4 separate regions of the Homo sapiens genome follow, and all the other regions are linked to region 3. The links come from fine-mapping of genetic effects on gene expression. A gene starts in region 3. Each other region holds a variant in brackets. All regions are shown on one strand. Distances are between the middles of the regions.

Region 1 (5,139 bases), 26 kb before region 3:
TGTACCCGCAGCAGCCACAAGTGGGCCCAGACTATTGCAGCCTCCCATAAACATGTGAGCATGTTCTGAGTGTGCCATGATGTGAGTGGACCTGGCTGGAATCTTCGGAGAGCGACTGAGGTGTTCAAATCGAATCTCCCAGGAGGCTTCCTTCCAGCCCCCTATTCTGGTAACTACCAGGAGGCTTCCTTCCAGCCCCCTATTCTGGTAACTACCAAAATCCCTCGGGTGCAAGTGTAGGGGTAGAGATGGAAGGATGAGAGGTGAAATTGACCTTTTGAAAGCAAAGCTCTGGCTCACAGGCCCCAAACTACCAGCCGTATCTAGCATATCCCCACCCTCCACCCACTACCTCCTCCAACAAAGGAGTCAACTCAGTTGAAAAAACTGGTCCTTTGGCCTATCCATGGGTCAAAGTCCACCTCTCCTGGGGGCCTGGAGAGGACTGAGCCTACGGAAAGGGGATACCTTCCCACTCAGCACTGCTTCACACAGGCCCCCTGCCTGGGGCTCTCCAAGGAGCCTTCTTCACCCACTTCCAGCTCCACTTCTGCAAGGTTAAGTCAAGTGAGAACGATGAGAAATAGGGAGATGGTGTCTCCTTAAGTCCTTGATCTGCCTGTCTGTGGAATGGGAGGTTGGATTAGCTGCGCTGAGGTCCCATCCACAGCTGGTGCTCAGCTGCTTGAAGGGGAGACTCCCTCCTCTGTAACTTCTTTCTGGGGGATTGGGGTGGGCAGTACCTATCCCCAGTCCCCTCCTAGCTTGACTTTAGTGGTTTCCAATGTAGAAGTTAACAAAGTATGCCCCATTCCTGTGACAAAAGCACAACCATTCTGAAGTTACTGGAGCATGGGCTCAGCTCATCCTCCCTCTGGCCCCTTCTCCCATGGGGACATCTCGGCCCAGCACCCCTATCCCATTTCCAGAGTTCTTCCTTCCCCATCTGGGCCTTCATAAAATGCAGGGGAAGCCAGACTGGTCTCAGGAGCGCTAAAGCCCTTCCGTGGGGGGTCGTCTTTCTGGGACTAGCCCTGCTGTTTAGGACCTGGGACCACAATGGGGTACCTGCCGAGGGGGTCCCCAAGAGATCCAGGCTGTCATGTGATTTATGGTGGCATGTGTTGTGTATTTGTTGGCTACTTGTGTCTTGAAATCTAGAATTATTTCACGCAGAATTGTCACTGTTTGTCAGGAAGAGAAAATGGGCTAGTGGAAGCCCAGTCTTGAGTTCTTGTCTTGTTACCATTTAAAATTGACATTTAATTTTCAAATCACTGTTGGTGCCTAATCACTTAAGTTATTAATTTATTCTGTTGTATTCTTTTTTTTAAATTGTAACATATTTATCCGGTGGGTGGGACAGGAGTGTGTTCAAGTGGGTCATGTTTTTGCTGTGGTGACACATGGTACAGGCTTGGAGCTTGCAGGTCCCTTTCTACTGTGGTGTTGGAGCAGGACAATAAAGTCCACTAGAAATGCACCCCAGAACCAGCTGCCGTGTCCATCTTGTCTTGAGGGGCTTGGTGGTGGAACCCGTTCTCACTCCAGTCTGTTCCAATTTTTGCTTTATTTGGAAATAATTGGGTATTTTTCTTGGCTGTGAATAAGAACAAATGCTCTCTACCTCAGCGTCTGTTGTAAAGTGGAAATCATACTAGCATTTACCCATCCAGCTTTCTTAGGCGTCTAGAGATGGGTTCTGGGCGTGTCTGTCTGCTGCTTTCACAGGTCACTTAGATGTGACATCTTGAGGGTCTGTGACATTGGGCCCAAACTCCACACCACCATCACAGCAGGCAGCCCCTGGGGAAGGAGGTAGGTAAAGGCTTGAGAGCTGCCTCCCAGGTGCATCCTCTCCACGGGCAGCATCACCCAGCCCTCAGTAAGGTAAGTAAGTCAGTCAGTCCACACGTTTACTTACACCCCACTTCAGTAGATTCAGTAGAGGGCTCTTGGCTCCCTGTGGCATCTCACACGTCACTGGGGGGCAGGCTGAGTCCTGGCCTCCCCAGACCCCGTGAGCAAAACCCAGTGGCCATCACAGCCCCTGAGTCCAAGGAAGAACAATCTCTTGCTTAGGCTTACTTTTATTTATTTAT[G/TTTATTTATTTAAG]AACATGGGTGTCTGTCTTGTCTTCGGTTAGAAGTTAGAAGGGGGCTACAGCAGTGTCAGGGCACTTCACCCAACCTGCAGGTGGCTGCTGTTGCAGCTACAAAGGCCAACTGCTCAGAGGAGCCCACAGGCTTCCTAAGAGCCCACACTTCACAAGGAACATGAACACCTTTGCAGTAAAATCAGGACTCTAACCACAAGGGGGATACAAGTGGTGGCTTCTCAGGCCCTGAGGCAGGCGTGGAGGGGCTGTGGGGGCAAAGGCCTCCTGCTGTGAGAAGCTAGCCCCCCGCCCCCCCCCCCAAAACCATGCAGTGGCGCTTGGTAAGGGGGCAGGTCTCGGTCTCTGTTCTTCTCAGAAAGGTACAGACAGTGCAGGTACCCCCCACCCCCATATGAGAAACAAACAAACAGGACAGCCAGAGGAGACACTGCCCCCCCCACCCCTTTGTGCAAGGCTTGGATCCTGCTGTGCTTTATACCGTACAGCAGTCGGAAGGAAAATAGTACTTGATGTCAAAACATTGGAGCTGAGGTCTAGCCTGTTTCCTGAACATCATCAGATCTTCCCGCATGGGGAGCCTGCTAGGGAAGGAGGGGGAGGCAAAGACCCGTGTGTGCCCATCTCGGCTGCTTCAAGTTAACCAGGACACTTGGGTGTAAAGTTTTAATGGGACTGATCCCCAATGAAAGGGACTTAGGTCTTACTTCCATATCTGAGAGAATCTCTGTGTACCCTTCATCAGGCTGAGGACTAAGGTGCCATGAGCTGTACCATCCTTCCTCTTGGTAGGGCCTGCCTCCACAGCTTCCCTCAGGCCCTACCTGGCTCCTGGAGGGAAGGGGTCAGGTTGGCAGCAGGTTCACATTAGAAGACCAGTCTGTGGAAGTCACCACCATTGCCACCTGCAGGATTGCAGCCCCCTGGAGAGCCTTCATCCTCATCCTTGTCTTCATCAAAGCCCCTCCCCCAGTGCGGAGATGTGGGGAGTGCAGAGATGTAGGCCGCCCTGCTCCGGGCCTCCTTCTCCTGCTCCTGGGAACACAGATGAGAGGAGACTTAGACTTAGAATTCACACCCTGAAGCCAGAGTGAGTCTACCCAGCACAACACCTTTCAATGTTTCCTCTAGGTCCCCAGGGCCTGGACACACAGAGACATTGCAGCTCAGTGGCAGGATATCCGGGGTGGACACCTTCAAAAGACTTCAAAAGACCCCCTCCTCTCAATAAAAACTCTAGTCCCTGAGCCAGCTGATACTAGGGTGTGACTGACTAGCTGACAAGGGCCTAATGTGGTACCGAGAGGTCTGAGGACTTCGAGGGTCATATCACACCACACGGGAACCTGTCCGCAGGCCTCATGATCACGAGGAATGGGCTCTGCCTATGAGAAAGCCCATCCTCCTGCTACCAGGACGTCAGCCTCATGGCGATCCTTACCCGCCACCCTGCCTCCATCTGGACAGCATGGCAGAAGCTGTCCCTGAGAGCCTGACTCAGCCTCAGGCCCCTCCCTGGGCTGCTGCTGGTAAAACAGCACATAGGCTGTGTCCTTGGGGAAGAAGGAGTTGATGTTGGTGACACCCGGTCTGGTGTCCCCACACCAGTTGCTGTATTCCCCCGCACAAAACACAAACTCCAGGCACTGGCACCCATCCCACTGGTCAAAGCCCATGCTGTTCCAGCTGCTCAGTATGCCAGTGCCACCCTTGACTCTAGGGAGTCACACAGGAGGCTCACGTGGGTAGTGGGACCCCCTCCCCCCACACCCGAAGCATCCTCCTCCCCCTCAGACTCAACTGGTCCCTGTACTCCTCCTTCAGCACACTTATTAACTGCATTAATGGGGTTTTCTAGATGATACAGAATCATGTCATTATCTCATCCCAGGAGCTTCTTAAGCTGTTAAGCAACTTCAGCAACTCTCAAGATGATACATACAAAAACCAATGTGCAAAAATTGCTAGCATTCCTATACACCAACAAGAAGCAGGGAGCCAAATCATGAACAAACTCCCATTCACAACTGCTACAAACAGAATAAAATACCTAGGAATACAGCTAACAAGGGAAGTGAAGGAGAGGACACAAATGGAAAAACATTCCATGCTCACAGATAGATAGGAAGACTCAATAGCATGAAAATGGCCATACTGCCCAATGTAATTAACAGATTCAATGCTATTCCCGTTAAACTACCATTCACATTCACAGAATTAGAAAAAACTATTTTAAAATTCATACGGAGCCAAAAAGTCCATATAGCCAAGACCATCCTAAGCAAAAAGAACAAAAGTGGAAGCCTAATGCCTACCTGACTTCAAACTATGCTGTTTTGCTTACTGTAGCCTTGTAGTATAGTACTGGTATAAAAACAGACACATAGACCAATGGAACAGAATAGAGAACTCACTCAGAAATAAGACTCCACACCTACAACCATCTTCAACAAACCTGACAAAAACAAGCAATGGGTAAAAGATTCCCTGTTTAATAAATGTTGCTGGAAGAACTGGCTAGCCATAGGCAGAATGTTGACATTCGACCCCCTCCTTATACCTTATACAAAAAATTCACTCGATGGATTAAAGACTTAAATGTAAAACCCAAAGGTATTAAACCCCTAGAAGAAAATCTAGGAAATACCATTCAGGACATAGGCATAGGCAAAGATTTAATGATGGAAACATCAAAAGCAATTGCAACAAAAGCAAACAATGACAAATGGGATCCACTTAAACTAAAGAGCTTATGCGGAGTACAAGGAACTATCATCAGAGTAGACACAACCTACAGAATGAAAAAAAATTTTTGCAAACTACCCATCTGACCTAAGTCCGATATCCAGAGTCTACAAGGAACTTAAATGTCCAAGAAAAAAACAACCCCATTAAAAAGTGGGCAAAGGACATGAACAGACACTTCTCAAAAGACATTCATTCATGTGGCCAACAAACGTACGAAAGAAAAATTCAACATCACTGACCATTAGAGAAATCAAAACCACAATGAGATACCATCTCACGCAAGCCAGA
Region 2 (5,148 bases), 86 kb after region 3:
CCAAGTCCTGTTTCCCTGACTGCCACCACTAGGCAGCTCCCAATCCCACAACATTCCTGTCTTTGGAGAAGGCAATTACTCAGGGAAGCAAGATTCTTTTTTTTTTTTTTTTGAGACAGAGTCTCGCTCTGTTGCCCAGGCTGGAGTGCAGTGGCGCGATCTCGGCTCACTGCATCCTCTGCCTCCCAGGTTCAAGCAATTCTCCTGCCTCAGCCTCCTGAGTAGCTGGGATTACAAGCACCCGCCACCATGCCCAGCTAATTTTTGTATTTTTAGCAGAGACAGGGTTTCACCATGTTGGCCAGGCTGCTCTTGAATTCCTGACCTCAGGTGATCCTCCCGCCTCGGCCTCCCAAAGTGCTGGGATTAAAGGCATGAGCCACTGTCCCCGGCCAGAAGCAAGATTCTTTTACGATACCCCTGATTCAGTTTGATACATGCTATTGATTGCTTAAAATTTCCTACTAAAAAATTAATATTCTCAACTAAATTGAACTTGTGCCAAAATCAGCATGTTCTTCTATGCCTCAGCCAGTTCTAATGTAATAGGAGATGCAGTTTATTTAAGCTATTTGCAAGTGTAATAACAGTTGTTGTTTTAAGAAATTATTTTTATTTTTAGCCTTTTGTCTGTGGGAAAAGCAGGAGACGCTTCGATTTTTCTGATTCTGACCACAACAGGACATTATTCCCTCTTTCCTCTGCTCTTCACTGCACCAGGTAAACAGCGTCTTCTGAGAAAAATATATTTGACTATCACAACCTTTTCATCGAGGCCCACAGATTAATACATCTAATTTAAACAACTCTAAAATCTCTTGGATAGAGATCATTCATCCTCTTAAATAAAACCTCCAATTTCCTGTAATTCTCAGCATCTCTAGATGTCACAAAAATGTAAAATTAAACTTAAAAAGTATTATTAGCACTATATAGCTGTGTCAGTGTGCTTATATTACTTTCAGCATCATAAGTCTTTCTGTCATCAGCTAAATTATCTTTTTTTTTCTATTCTTTTAACAGAACTTCCCATTAAAATCTTACTCATGTTACTATTCACCATATATAGTATTTCGTCACTGAAGACTTTATTCAGGTAATCAAAAAAATGTTTAAAATTATACTTACTCTTGTGAAATGTTTACACCTAAGTGGTCAAATAAGCTCTTTAAATTTTATTTTTAAGTTATAACAGTAATATGACAACATTACAAAAAAAATTGGTAAATAGAGGGAGAAATCACTCAATCCCATCACTCAGTCGAGACAACATAGTTTGTGTCTTTAGTTTGGGGGAGTATTTGAGGAGGACTACTTAAATTAAAATCCTATATGAAAACTCAAAAACTGAATGTAAAATATGCTTTATGAATAAAACTATTAAATACAGATAGATATGGAAAAAACTAAAAGATACTATGTACAAATTTTTTTTGTTCGTTTTTTTGAGACGGAGTTTTGCTCTTGTTGCCCAGGCTGGAGGGCAATGGCGTGATCTCGGCTCACCACACCCTCCGCCTACCGGGTTCAAGCTATTCTCCTGCCTCAGCCTCCCAAGTTACTGGGATTACAGGCATGCGCCACCATGCCCAGCTAATTTTTTTTTTTTTGGAGACGGAGTTTCACTCTTGTCGCCCAGGCTGGAGTGCAGTGGCGCGATCTCCACTCACTGCAACTTCCGCCTCCTGGGTTCAAGCGATTCTCCAGCCTCAGCCTCCTGAGTAGCTGAGATTATAGGTATGCATCACTACCACACCTGGCTAATTTTTTATATTTTTAGTAGAGGTGGGGTTTCACCATGTTGGCCAGGCTGCTCTCGAGCTCCTGACGTCAGGTGATCCACTTACCTTGGCCTCCCATAGTGCTGGAAGTACAGGCGTGAGCTGCTGTGCCCGGCTAATTTTGTATTTTTATTAGAGATGGGGTTTCTCTGTGTTGGTCAGGCTGGTCTTGAACTCCCAACCTCAGGTGATCCACCCACCTCGGCCTCCCAAAGTGCTGGGATTACAGGCGTTGAGCCACCGCACCCAACTATGTACAAATTTTACTACAGAATTATAGATGGAAACTTTTTCTCTTCTAAACTGTATGTAATGTTAACTATAATTTTTTTTTTTTTTTTTTGAGACGGAGTTTCACCCTTGTTGCCCAGGCTGGAGTGCAATGGCACGATCTCAGCTAACTGAAACCTCCGCCTCCCAGGTTCAAGCGATTCTCCTGCCTCAGCCTCCCTAGCAGCTAGGATTACAAGCATGCGCCACCACACCCAGCTGATTTTGTATTTTTAGTAGAGATGGGTTTCTCCATGTTGGTCAGGCTGGTCTCAAACTCCTGACCTCAGGTGATCCACCGTCCTTGGCCTCCCAAAGTGCTGGCATTACAGGTGTGAGCCACCATGCCCGGCCAACTGTAATTTTTTAAAGCTTGCTTATGGTTCATAACTGTGTCCATAAAAACTTATATAATTAACTATGTTAAAATGCAGTTATAGCCATGTGACCCAGCAATTCCACCCCTATACCCAAAAGAATGGAAACAGGGACTCAACAGATACTTGTACATCAGTATTCATTGTAGCATTATTCATACTAGCTAAAAGATGGAAACAACCCAATGTCCATCAACAAATACATGATAAAGTGTGATATATACATATAGTGGATTATTCAGCCAAAGAAAAGAATGAAGTTCCAATACATGCTACATGAATGAATCTTGAAAACATGCTAAGTGAAAGAAACGAGAGAATAGAACAAATATCATATCGTTCCACTGATAGGAAATTCTAGAATAAACAAACATAGAGACAGAAAGTAGATTAGAGGTTGAGGGAACAGGGGGATGGGAAGTTATTGTTAATGGTTCCAGAGTTTCTGTTTGGGGTCACGAAAATATTTTGAAGGTGGATAGTGGCGATGGGCGCATATTATTGATCTACTTAATACCATCAAACTGTATACTTAAAAATGGTTAAACAAATAGCAAATTTCATGTTATATATATTTTACCAAAATAAAAAATATTTTAAAAATCTGGTGAAA[C/A]CTTGTCTCTATAGAAAATACAAAAATTAGCTGGGCATGGTGGCAGGCGCCTGTAATCCCAGCTACTTGGGAGGCTGAGGCAAGAGAATCGCTTGAACCCAGGAGGTGGAGGTTGCAGTAAGCTGAGATTGCACCACTGCACTCCAGTCTGGGTGACAGAGCAACGCTCCATCTCAAAAAGAAAATTTTTTTTAAATCTTCAATTCTATATTGTTTCTCATGTTCTTATTCCAATGTCACAGCACCCAACCCCTTTACCTCTTTCAAATGCAGAACTAATTCTCTCTGAGCAGCTTGAGCTAAATAACAGCATAGGTCAATGGTGGAGTAAATTTAGATTGTTGAGATAATATAACGTATATAATTATCATTTTTTTCTAAATGTGAAACTTATTTTTTATTTTTATTTATTTTTTGAGACAGAGTCTCACTCTGTCGCCCAGGCTAGAGTGCAGTGGTGCCATATCGACTCACTGCAACCCAGTTAAAGCAGTTCTCCTGCCTCAGCCTCCCAAGTAGCTGGAATTACAGGCCTGTGCCACCCTGGTCGGCTAATTTTTGTATTTTTAGTAGAGATGGGGTTTCTCCATGTTGGCCAGGTTAGTCTAGAACTCCTGACCTCAGGTGATCCACCTGCCTTGGCCTCCCAAAGTGCTGGGATTACAGGCATGAGCCTCTGCACTTGGCCCTAAATGTGAAATTTAATATACTCTTGACTCTGGCCTTGGCTATAATAATTGACAGCAAGACAGTGCAGATGGGGAAGCTTTAGCTAGGAAATGTTTGCTAAACCAGGATGACTCATCTAAAATCAGACTTTTCTCTCTTTTTTCCTTCAGAAAAGAAAAACCTCTTTTTAATTGGATGGAAACTTTCTACCTGCTTGGCCTGGGGCCTCTGGAAGTCTGCTGTGAATTTGTATTCCCTTTCACCTCCTGGAAGGTGAAGTACCCCTTCATCCCTTTGTTACTAACCTCAGTGTATTGTGCAGTAGGCATCACATATGCTTGGTTCAAACTGTATGTTTCAGTATTGATTGACTCTGCTATTGGCAAGACAAAGAAACAATGAATAAAGGAACTGCTTAGATATGTGCCAAGCAATTATTTCATGGGAAATTAACCAGAACTTGAAGAAAGTTGCCAGTGGCATCAGCCATTTGTTTCAGTAGAACTGTTCAGAGCACCATTCTTCCACACTTGGTCTTGCCCAGCCTAGCAACCGGATTGTCACCATGGTGAGAAGCCACTGGCCCTCCATAAGCACTGAAACACATCTGAAAAAAACTCACCTTTCCCTATTAAAATTGTCTGAGATCGTTCAGACTGCTGTGCTTGCTCAAGCCAAACAGGGAATCTGATTAACCGCATAATTATTTGTAGCCTATGCTAACCATTGTGAGGATATAAAGCATAATTAGAATCCTGTGCTAAGGAAATATAAATGAAATGCTATTTTGTATGCACAAAAAAACTTCTGGATCGTTACCAGCTCCTACATTTTCCTCTTGGCGTGTACACAGGCAGATGGTGTACTGTCCCCATTCTGTACACCTTGTTCGAGATTTTTTTTGTTTGAAATTATACAGTGACAATACTCACAAAGCCAAGGGGAGTAGTTAAGGTACTGGTTTGGCCAGGCAGCAGAAACTACAAACCACAGCTACTTTACATTGATTTAAGGATATCTCGTGCAGCTCATTTATTCTAACAGCAAGCACTGCAGTTTTTATAAGGCAGCCACTTAAACCTTTCATCATGCGCAGGAACTGAAGTGATTTTTGCAGTCTGGTTCTTATCCTTTCCCTTCCTTAAGAGTACTTCATATACGCTTTTTATCCAGGACCCCAATTTGTGTAATATCTGCCACACATTCAGATTCAGCCAACGTTTATCTAGTCAACAGTAGGAACTTTCACACATTTTATTTTATTTCTATTTTTTTTCAGCCCTCAGGCAGAATTCATACATTTTATTTACCCATTATCCCCTAAGATCAGAGAGACTCCAAGGTCAATGGCATTCTGAGATGGAATCCAGTTATTCCATCTCTTCCGTCTACTCCATTTTCTAAGACTTCTTTTTGGTCTGTTATTGCAGAGACAAAG
Region 3 (5,148 bases):
TGTGGGGCAGGGGTGGAGATGAACTCAAGCAACATTGTTCAGTGGAGACTCTGCAGACATTGGAGCAGGGGGCTTTTTCCTGACTGCTACTTTGCACAATGTCCCCTCTACTGAAAAAGGGCTTTTCCCTCTTCTCTCCTGGAAAATTCTGACTCACCCTTCAATGCCCAGCTCACATGCCCTCTCCTCTGGGAAGCCTTTCCTTTTCCCTCCACAATTCAAGTGTCTAAAGTTCTGGCCTCCAAGGCCCTCTTAGCTATTCTCATCCCTCTGCAGCATAACTGGAATCCATGTCTCTGTCTCCCACCAGGCTGGGACCTCCCTTGGCAGAGGTCCAATCCCCGTCTCTGAGCCCAGTGCCCAGTACAGAACCAAGGACTGAGGTGTCCGTGAAGGTGCGTCAAGCAACTCATGAGAGACATGTGACAGCAAGATGAGAGAAAACCAAAGATGTAACCACAAAAGTACCTTCCAGAAACTGGCCTAACCTTTGGTCCAGTCACCACCCCCTCCTTTGCCCAGGCCTGGTCTTGCATATCAAAAACCCTGAAAATCTTAAACATCAGTCAAGAAAGCCCCTACAGAGGTCACTGGACTGGACTGAGGCTTTAGCCATTCTAGAAATTGTTCAAACAACCAAAGCAAAAGAAAAAGCACAAAACAAAAACAAAACAAAACAAAACAAAAATCTGTTCCTGGTTAGCCTTCAGGTCAAAAGCTCACAGAATCTCCTAGGACCTGAGAAGAAGGCTTCATGGTGTTACTCAACCTCTCCCTGCTCCAGGTCAGAGCAGCCCCTCCCAGCCTCTGCTCAGCACCTAAGAGCTGAGGAGCACATTTCCTCCCCTCTCTGACCCTCGAAGCCAGCCTCCCTCCTTTGACTCCCCTGGGAGCCAGAGCTTCCTTGGGGGTACCAGGCTGCCCCTCCCGACACCAGGTGGTGCCCTCCATCTCTGGCCCCTCAGGTGTCTGAATGGCAGCATCTCTCTAGGTATTTTTTAACTGAACTTCTACCCAAGGCAACCCTGGGAAGAAGTGCTTCACCCTACTCCGGGAGGCCCATGTCTGGGCCACCAAACTGTCTCCTGGAAAGAAAAAGAAAAAAGGGTTTCACTGGTAAAAAGCAGCTGCTCTTCCTCAAAGGATAAGGAGGAGAGAGAAGGGAAGAAAGCAGGAGCAGCTATTCCTCCTCAGGAACCCACCACACACACCTATCCCTGCGGGGCCACCCCTCACAAACCTGTGAGGGCCGCACTCCACCCCAAGCTTTCTGGAAGGAAGGGCACCAAGCTGACACATCAGGGTCTCCGGTTTGCAAGGGCCAGGGCCGTAAGAGGGGGTTGGGGAGGGTATCCCAGGGCCCAGCACACTGAGAATAGGAAAAGCCCATTCCAAGCAATGGTGGCCTCGGGCCCCCCAGTTTGTGCCACCTCCCTCCCTCCAGTGCACCCGCGCCCAGCCCACGCTTGAGCTGGAGGGCCCCACGAAAAGCCAGCAAGCGAATGTACTAGGTACTGGGTGCGAATGCCCTCTTACCTGAAAGGGGAGGGAGCAGGATCACTTCGACATACAATTGATGAAGGGAGGGGATTAATGCCCAGAGAGGAATAGCTACTCGCCCAAGGTCACACAGTGAGGCCCAGGAGGCCCAGGATGCACCCAGATCTCCCGACTCCCAGCCCTGGGCTCGCAAGTCCAGGGTTCTCGAAAGGCCAGGGTGCAGACACCGCCCCCCAAAGACAGTCACACGCCCCCAACCCCCTTACCTCCCGGACCCCGGTGGGCCAGAGCCGGCTGCTGGGCGGGGCGCTCAGGCCGGGCAGGACGAGGCTGGGCCCGGCTAGGTCAGGGCTGGTCCTCTGCTCCCCCCAGGGTGGGGACGCCCTCAGCCAGGTCCCAGACGGAAGAGATGCTGCTTCCACTGCAAAATCCAGTCTTCCCACCCCGCCTGGCACAAGCCTCTATGTATCCAGGAAGCCCGACTCTGCGGCGCGGCCCCGGGGCTGCGGGATGAAGCATGGGGAGGGGCGAGGTGCGTGAAATGGGGCGGAGCCGGAGCGGGGGCCACCCCGCGAGCTGCCACTCTGACCGCGTCCCCTTTAAGGCCAGCCGGCCGGACACCGGCGGGGACGAGGCGGGGCGCAGAGCAACTCGCTGCAATGCCTCCTGGGAGATGGAGTTCGCTCTCGACGCGCCGAGCTGCGAGGAGCCCAGAGAGAACTACCAGTCCCGGAAGGCAGCGCACAGACCCCGGACCGCCACGCCCCTGGGCTGGGCTCCTACCCTCCGCCCCCCTCGCAAAGCTGCGCTGGCCGCTCGCGGAGGGAGAGGCTGCAGAGCGAGGGCAGGAGGTGGGTGCGGCACGGCCGGGGTCGCGGGGCTCGGGGACTACCGGCGAGGGTACGTGGGCCCACTGAGCACCTGTCTTACCATGAGACTAATCTATCCCAGCCTCGCCATTCCCATCTGTGAAATGGGGATGGCATCGCCTGTGGTGCGGGGGAGGGGGCGCGTTTCGGAGCGAGGTGAGCCGAAGTGGGCAGAGCTCTTAGAGGGGCGGGGCTGTTGGGAGAGCAAGGGCGGATGGTGATAGTCGGAAAAGCCCGGATAATGAGGGTCGGGACTGTGGGAGGAGTCCTTGGTGGGTGGGGCAAGGAGAGGCGGGATCTCTAGGTGGGGGTGGGGCACTTGTCAGGTCGGAGTGGGGGCTGTAGGGCTGGGGAGTGGGTGCGGAACAAGCCGATGAGGCCAGCCTGGGTGAGATTGGGGAAGGAAGGGCGGAGACACAGATGACAGGGAACTTGCCCCGCTCTGGAGAGCCCTGGGCCGGCCGCGCTGTGGCGGCGTGGGCAAAAGCCTGTGATGCATAGAACACCTCCCTTTACTGACTGGAAATAAAGAGTCCATCCCCGAGTTCAGTGCGGCACACCAGTGATCTCATTGACCTCCCACGCCCTGAAAAGTAGAGGCGTCACTATAGCGGTTGACAGGTGAGGAATGTGAGGCTCAGAAAAGCGAAGGGACTTGCCTAAAACCACTCAGGACTCCTTACTTCAAAGACCTTGCTTTTCTCCCTGCACTCGGGGAGGCAGAGGTTTAGCTTGGCGTGGGAGGCAGGAAAGAAAAGTTTTGATGCCCCGACCTTCGCAAATTGTCTGGCAGGACCAGTCCCCCCAACCCTTCCGAATGACAGCCTGTAAGGCAGCCCTCCTATAGTACTGTGAGGATGAAATGAGATGGATTTGAAAGCACGGTGTTTATAAATTACTGTTTGGAGGAGACATAGGAAGAGAGCGGTTTGAAATGGGGTGCTGGTGCCGGAGGAAAAGCACAAGGTGAAGCGTGAGAGTGAGCCGAGAAGGTGAAGGAAAGTTCTGGAAGGGGCTGGGGGATGGTAGTGGTTGTTGGAGGTCTACGCCAGATGAAAGAATACCTTGCCGTGCCAGATTCCGTGGTCTCCTTCTTCCAGCCCACCTTTCTCTCCTCCTGCCTTTTGCGCAGCTCATTCTGGGGTCCCTGTGTCTAGGAAGCACCTTTTCTCTCCTCCCTATGGGTTGTGATGGTAATAGAGCAGCCTTCGGATTTCTTAGAGATATGGACTGGGCAAGACAGAATTATAGACGCAGCTCTTTGATGTGGGGTGGTCAGGAAGAGGAGGTGAAGAAAGGGTAGTCGTCCTAGGGGCTTCAAGGCAAAGAGTCCTTTCTCCGGTGGGGTAAGGTGGGGAAGTCTCCCACTTACTGGAAAACACAGTACTCACTCTGAGCATTGTCTTTTTTGAAATTTACCCAGCCACGTGCTGTCCATTCCCTTACGCAGTGGAAACTCTCCTTGCATTTACTCCCAAGTAATCACCTCGGCCTTGTCACATCCCTTTAGATTCCAGATTGAAAATTGAACAGAGCATTTCAAAATTAAAAAGTTTTGAAAATCCAGGTGGGGAAAATGGATCTGACTAAACAGGAGAGAAATTTCTTCCTCTTCCCCTATTCTACGTGCTTCTGTGGATATAGAAAGGGGCACCCCCAGCCCCAGCAAGGGAGCCAGGCATCCATCTACTTAAGTAAAGTTGGCTGTGGTAAGGGGTTAGACTAAAATTCTCCGCAGATGCAGAGGAGAAGGAATGAATTCCAGCTGAGAGACCTGGCCGATGCATGGGATTTGTCTTCAAGGTCCAGGCAGAGGGGATGGCAGATGCCAAATTGCAGAAGTCGAAGAGGGCCCAGTATGGTTGGTCTGTAAAGTAGGTATATAATAGTATCTACTTAATCTGTGAGATTGAAAGAGATTAACATGTATAGAGTGCCTAGCACGGTAGTAACTGCTCAATAAACGTTAGCCATTATTATTGCCGTTGTAGTGTTTGTTGTTGTTATGATCATCATCATCTGCCCAGGAACGTGCCCAGGGCTGCACAGCTAGTAAGTGGCAGGGGATGATTCAAATGCAAACCCAGGTAATGCCGAATACCATGCATGGTCTGCCCCTACCCCACACAGCCTCTCCAGTTCTTTTCTTTTTTTTTTTTTTTTTTTTTTTTTTTTTTTTTTTTGAGACAGGGTCTTACTCTGTTGCCCAAGCTGGAGTGCAGTGGCGTGATCTCGGCTTGCTGCAGCCTGACCTCCCAGGCTCAAGCGATCCTCCTACCTCAGCCTGTGCAGCTGGGACTGCAAGCACGTGTTACCATGCCCAGCTAATTTTTTTTTTTCTCTATAGAAACGAGGTCTCATTATGTTGTCCAGGTGGTCTCAAACTCCTGAACTCAAGCGATCCTCCCACCTGGGCCTTCCAAGTGCTGGGATTACAGGCATGAGCCACTGAGCCTGGCCTGTCTCCAGTTCTTTCTGCCCATCCTTGACATTTCTGAGGCCCAGGAGTGGCCTCTCTTTGTCAACATTCACAGTGAGTCATGACAGGAGTTTCTTTCCTGCCGAGTTACAGAGATTCTGGGTTCATGATGAGGCAGGAAAAACAAGGCCTGAACAGCCATCTTCTTCCAGGCAGAATCACAGCACAGAAGATAGGCAGACCTGGCCGGGCGCGGTGGCTCACGCCTGTAATCCCAGCACTTTGGGAGGCTGAGGTGGGTGGATCATTTGAGGTCAGGAGCTTGAGACCAGCCTGGCCAACGTGGTGAAACCCCGTCTC
Region 4 (5,148 bases), 130 kb before region 3:
CATATAGTAAATTATTTTTATAGCAGATCTTGTTTAGGTTGTGAACATGGGTGAGAAATTCCAGTTTCTGTCATTATGTCTGGTTCTATCAAGAGCCATAGAGATGAATGTTACCAAGCCTAAGGGTAAGTTAGAGAGGAAAACATGGGAGAAAACTGTAAAGAACAGAAACTCTACCACTTTTTTCCCCAACTAGTACTGCAATATATATCTTCATACATACATCTTTTTCTTTCCTTTGAATTATTACCTTAAAGTCAGATGCCAGAAATGAGAATTATTGGGCACAAAGGGATGAACATTTTTAAGGCATTTGAAATACTGCCAGATTATTTTCCAAACACATAATACTAACAAATAGTTCAGAGCAACATGCAAGGGTGTCTGTTTTATCACACTACAGGGAATTGTCATGAAAATCTTTTAGCTGGTTTAATGGAGGAAAAAATGGAGGAAAAAAAATTCATTTTTAGTTAAGGTTTGGTGTTTTTCATCTGATTATTTATGCAGCTCCTTCTGAGGGTGCATCCAAACGCTCACAGCCTTGTTTCAGAGGCTGAGAGGCCTGCAACCTCAGCGGCCTCTGGGGCACAGCACCTCTGTTGTGCAGCAGCAGGGAGGGGCAGTGATGGAGGGAAAACATAACACAGACCACACCATTGTTAGGGGATGAGGTTGCTGGGATAATGCTGTGAGAAGGGATGAAAAGAACGATTCTCCATTCTTGATTGTTGTGATTTCCAGGGATGAGCCAACAGCTCCAGTGCGGGAAGGGATGGGTCTTTACTGCATCCAGATGCTCCTTTTTCCAGTGCTGCCTCCGATTATTTCTGGTGAGAAGGGGTGGTGGATAACATAGCAGCTGAAACAGATTAACTTTTATGCCAGTTTCCTCCCTTTAAGTGATTGCCCTGGACCTGGGGACATTCAGAATTCGTCAGAAACCGTTTAGAAATAAGAATGTGGTTCAAGGTCCCTGGTGTGCAAGAGCCAACCTTCTGGAGTTTGCGTACCATTCCTGCCTTTATCTGTGGGAGCTGCTTGAGGCAAAGGGATCTTTCTTTCCTCTCCTTCCCTACTGCCACTGCCGTTGTTCAGGCCCTTATCCTGTTTTGTCTGGGCTTCCTGTTTCCCTTAATCTATCCTCATCTATGCTGTTGCCAAAGTGATATTTCTACTATGCACACTGGATCCTATCCCTCTCCAGTTAAAACTGTCAGTGGTCCGCCACTGCCTTCAGGATGAAAGTCAAGCTCCTTTTCACAGCTTTTTTTTTTTTTTTTTGGCATTTAACAATCAGATCCCAAAATGTCTTTCCTGACTGGCTCCCACCGCTTCTCTGGACTGTTCCAGGACCCTGACTAGTGCATGCACTCTGTAAGGTGCTTGTGCTGGTCCCTCCTCCTGATAGCCCTTCTGCCTCTGTTCCACCAGATTCACTCCTGATCCCTCATCTCCCTCCTCAAAAAGAAGTCTCCCTCAATTATCAACTCTCTGATGGATTTTCCCTGGTAGGTAATCAGTTCTGTTCCTGTAACCCTCTAGTAGCAACTATATACAAGATTGTGATTTCTATTATTATTTTCCCCTAAATCAGGAATTATCTTCCTTTTGTATATTCATATTTGTGGATCCCCAGCCCTTAGTACAATATTTGACACATAATAAATGCTCCAGAATATCTTTTTCTTCCTTCCTGCCAGGTTGTTTGTAAGTTCTTTTACCTTCAATGTGTTCTTAGTTTTAGAGTTAAAAGGAAATGTAATGTAGTTTAATCTTCTTCTTCTTTTTCTTGTTTTTTAATGGTTGACAAAACCAAAGCCCAGAAAAGAAAAGAATTCACCCTGGGATGATCAGCCAGATATAATGGCAGGGCTGTTTAGGGCTGATCTCCTTAGGTAACTTAAAAAGAACCTTGAAACAAAAGATTGCATCAGGAGGAAAGGAAGGAGCAAAGATTCGTTGCCAAGTTCTTTGCTGAATGCTTAATATATGTTACTTTTTAAAAAAATTATTTCTTCTTTTGATTGTGATAAAATACACATAACATAAAGTTTACCATCATAATCATCTTTTTTTTTTTTTTTTTTTTTTTGAGACGGAGTCTCGCACTGTTGCCAGGCTGGAGTGCAGTGGCGCCATCTCAGCTCACTGCAACCTCCGCCTCCCAGGTTCAAGCGATTATCCCGATTCAGCCTCCCGAGTGGCTGGGACTACAGCTGCCCGCCACCACACCCAGCTAATTTTTGTATTTTTAGTAGAGATGGGGTATCACCATGTTGGCCAGAATGGTCTCAATCTCTTAACTTACGATCTGTCCACCTTGGCTCCCAAAGTGCTGGGATTACAGGCGTGAGCCACTGTGCCCGGCCCATCGTAATCACTTTTAAGTGTATAGTTCAGTGACATTAAATGCATTCATATTGCTGTGCAGCCATTACCACCATCCATCTCCAAAACTCCTTTCAGCTTCCCAAACTGAAACTATACCCATTAGACATTGATGCCCTATTCCTCCGGTGGCCTAATAACCACTGTTGTATTTTTTGTCTCTCTGAATCTGGCTACTCTAGGCTTGCCATGTAACTTTGTCATATAAGTGGAATCACATGGTATTTTCTAACTGCTTATTTCACTTAGCTTAATGCCCTTAAGGTTCATCCCTGCTGTAGCATGTGTCAGAATTTCCTTCCTTTTTAAGGCTGAATAGTATTCCATTGTATGCATGTACTGTGTTTTATATCTCCATTCATCCACCAGTGACATGTGGGTAGCTTCCACCTTTTGGCTCTTCTGACTAATGCTGCA[A/G]TGAACATAGGTGTAAAAATATTCCGTTTGTGTTCCTGCTTTCAGTTTTTTGGGGTCTGTATCCAAAAGTAGAATTACTGGATCATATGGTAATTCTATTTTCAATTTTTTGAGGAATTGCCTTACTCTCTTCTATAGCAGCTGCACTATTTTATATCCCCACCAACATTGCACAAGGGTTCCAGTTTCTCCATATTCTCACCAACACTTATTTCTATTTTTTAAAGTAGCCATATTAATAGGTGCAAGGTAGTATTTCATTGTTTTGATTTGCATTTCCCCAATGATTAGTGACATGAGCATCTTTTCATGTGCTTCTTGGTCATTTTGTATCCCTTCTTTGGAGAGATGTCTATTCAAGTCCTTTGTCAATTTTTAGTTAAGTTGTTTGTTTTTGTTGTTATTGTAGTTCTTTATATATTCTAGTTATTAACCCCTTATAATCCTGTACTAGTCAGTGTTCTCCAGAGGGACAGAACTAATAATATGTATATATGAAAGGGAGTTTATACATATTTCATAATATGTATATTATGAAAGTAAAGAATTGGCTCACACAGTTATAATGCAAAGTCCCACAATAGGCCATCTGGAAGCTGGGGAAGAGAGAAGCCGGTAGTGGCTCAGTTTGGGTCTGAAAGCCTCAAAACCAGGGAAAACAACAGTGCAGCCTTTAAGTCAGTCCCAAAGGCAGGACACCCACCCCCTGGCCCCCCGTGCAAGTCCCAGTGTCAGGCCAAAGAACCTGAAGTCTGATGTCCAAGGGCAGGAGGAGCGGGAGGAAGCATCCAATATGGCAGGGGGAGGGGGAGTGGGGAGAAGGAAGCCAGAAGCCTCAGCAAGCAAGCTTATTCCACCTTCTTCCGCTTGCTTTCTTCTGGCCATGCTGACAGGCAGTAGGATGGTGCCCAACCATATTAAGGGTGACTCTTCCTTTCTCAGTACACTGACTCAAATGTCAACCTCCTCTGGCAGCACCTTCACAGATAAACCCAGAAACAGTACTTCGCCAGCCATCTAGGCATCCTTCAATCCAATCAAGTTGACACCTAATATTAACCATCACAAATCCTTTACCAGATATATGATTTGCAAATATTTTCTTCCATTCAGTGGATTGTCTTTTCACTTGGTTGATTGTGTCCTTTGATTCACTAAAGTTTTAATTTTGATGTCCAATTTATCTATTTTTTGTTTTGCTACCTATACCTTTGGTGTCACATCCAAGAAAACATTGTCAAATCCATTGTCATGAAACATTTTTTCTATGTTTTCTTCTGAGAGGTTTATCATTTTCATTCTTATATTTAGGTCTTTGGTCCATTTTGAGTTAATTTTTGTATATGGTATAAGGGTCCAGCTGTTTTTTTACATGTGGATATCCAGTTTTCCCAGCACCATTTGCTGAAAAGTTCTGTTATTTCTTTTGTATTTGTGTGATAGTCCTAGGATGTGTTATAATTACCTTATAGATGAGAAAACAGAAGGTGAAATATTCCTGAGGATCCCCTAAAAGCAGGCTTCTTGCTATCCTTGGCAGTTCAAAGACATTAAAAAGGGGGGAAAGCCATTTTGAAATAATGCGAGAAGAAGAGGGGAATAGACTGAGAGGAAAAGCAAAACAAAATAAAATAAGATTGGGATAGACAGCCAGCCGTGAGCAGAACTTTGAAGTGTGTTTATAATTCACTCAGAGACCTCCTCCCCCCTGCCCTTTTACTCTCCTTCCTTCTCTTACTCTCTCAATTAGCTCCTTCAGTTTGCTGTCTCTTCTGAAACTCTTTGAAAGCTTTTCTACAGTCTGTGTCCAGCCTGTTTTCTGAGCTTTATCTGCTGTCTCCCTCGCTGCCACTGTGAAGCTGTAATGGAGTCATGTTAGTTCTCACTGCTCCCATAGCAAGCCCTGCCTTTACAGACCACGTTCATTTTATTCACTTTACCTTTAATGTGCCATGGTCTTTCTCCAAGGCCTCTTGACGGTGGTGGCACCTCTTCACCTCTGCGTCCCAGTAGCATTGTGGCACAGAGGTGGCTGTTCTGTAAATGTGTCAAAAAGATGACTAAACCGACAGTTTTTGTTCCTTTGCATAACCATTCCACATATGCAATATAGTCTTACCTTCCGGGATTTAAAGTAAGCATGTGACCTGGTCTCTGTCCACCAGTGATTGTAATCTAGCTGGGAGAAAGCAAGGTACTTCTATATACACTTGACACTTTAATATTCTGTATAACATGTTATACTTGTAACCTTCAGTGAATGACAGGGAAGACTTGTTTTATCTCCATTATATTAAGATACTAAAGCACAGCAAAGTTGGAGTTTGGCTGAAATCACAT

The links.
Region 1: its variant is fine-mapped to the expression of USP35 in cerebellar hemisphere (GTEx, PIP above 0.99). The same link has a PIP of 0.9 or more in cerebellum, nucleus accumbens, prefrontal cortex, testis, thyroid and whole blood.
Region 2: its variant is fine-mapped to the expression of USP35 in whole blood (TOPMed, PIP above 0.99).
Region 4: its variant is fine-mapped to the expression of USP35 in whole blood (TOPMed, PIP 0.96).

The regions. Positions count from the first base shown.
Region 1 is chr11:78,211,645-78,216,783 of GRCh38, reverse strand. USP35 (ubiquitin specific peptidase 35) reads right to left here. Exons shown (of 11, transcript NM_020798.4): 11 at 1,552-3,138. The coding sequence ends at 2,971. It overlaps GAB2 (GRB2 associated binding protein 2), which reads left to right. Exons shown (of 10, transcript NM_080491.3): 10 at 1-1,491. Among named protein-coding and RNA genes, the nearest start is that of USP35, 25 kb to the right of the region's middle. The variant G/TTTATTTATTTAAG (reference allele first, on the strand shown) is at 2,103.
Region 2 is chr11:78,099,928-78,105,075 of GRCh38, reverse strand. It overlaps ALG8 (ALG8 alpha-1,3-glucosyltransferase), which reads left to right. Exons shown (of 13, transcript NM_024079.5): 11 at 623-720; 12 at 1,024-1,096; 13 at 3,881-4,130. The coding sequence ends at 4,112. Among named protein-coding and RNA genes, the nearest start is that of NDUFC2-KCTD14, 23 kb to the right of the region's middle. RefSeq lists a silencer at 1-173. The variant C/A (reference allele first, on the strand shown) is at 3,042.
Region 3 is chr11:78,185,776-78,190,923 of GRCh38, reverse strand. USP35 (ubiquitin specific peptidase 35) reads right to left here and starts at 2,005. Exons shown (of 11, transcript NM_020798.4): 1 at 1,767-2,005. KCTD21 (potassium channel tetramerization domain containing 21) reads left to right here and starts at 2,298. Exons shown (of 2, transcript NM_001029859.3): 1 at 2,298-2,351. RefSeq lists silencers at 1,652-1,811, 2,242-2,581.
Region 4 is chr11:78,314,506-78,319,653 of GRCh38, reverse strand. All of the region lies in intron 1 of GAB2 (GRB2 associated binding protein 2), which reads left to right. It overlaps LOC105369402 (a long non-coding RNA gene), which reads right to left. Exons shown (of 3, transcript XR_950343.4): 2 at 4,749-4,845; 3 at 1-830. Among named protein-coding and RNA genes, the nearest start is that of GAB2, 100 kb to the left of the region's middle. The variant A/G (reference allele first, on the strand shown) is at 2,809.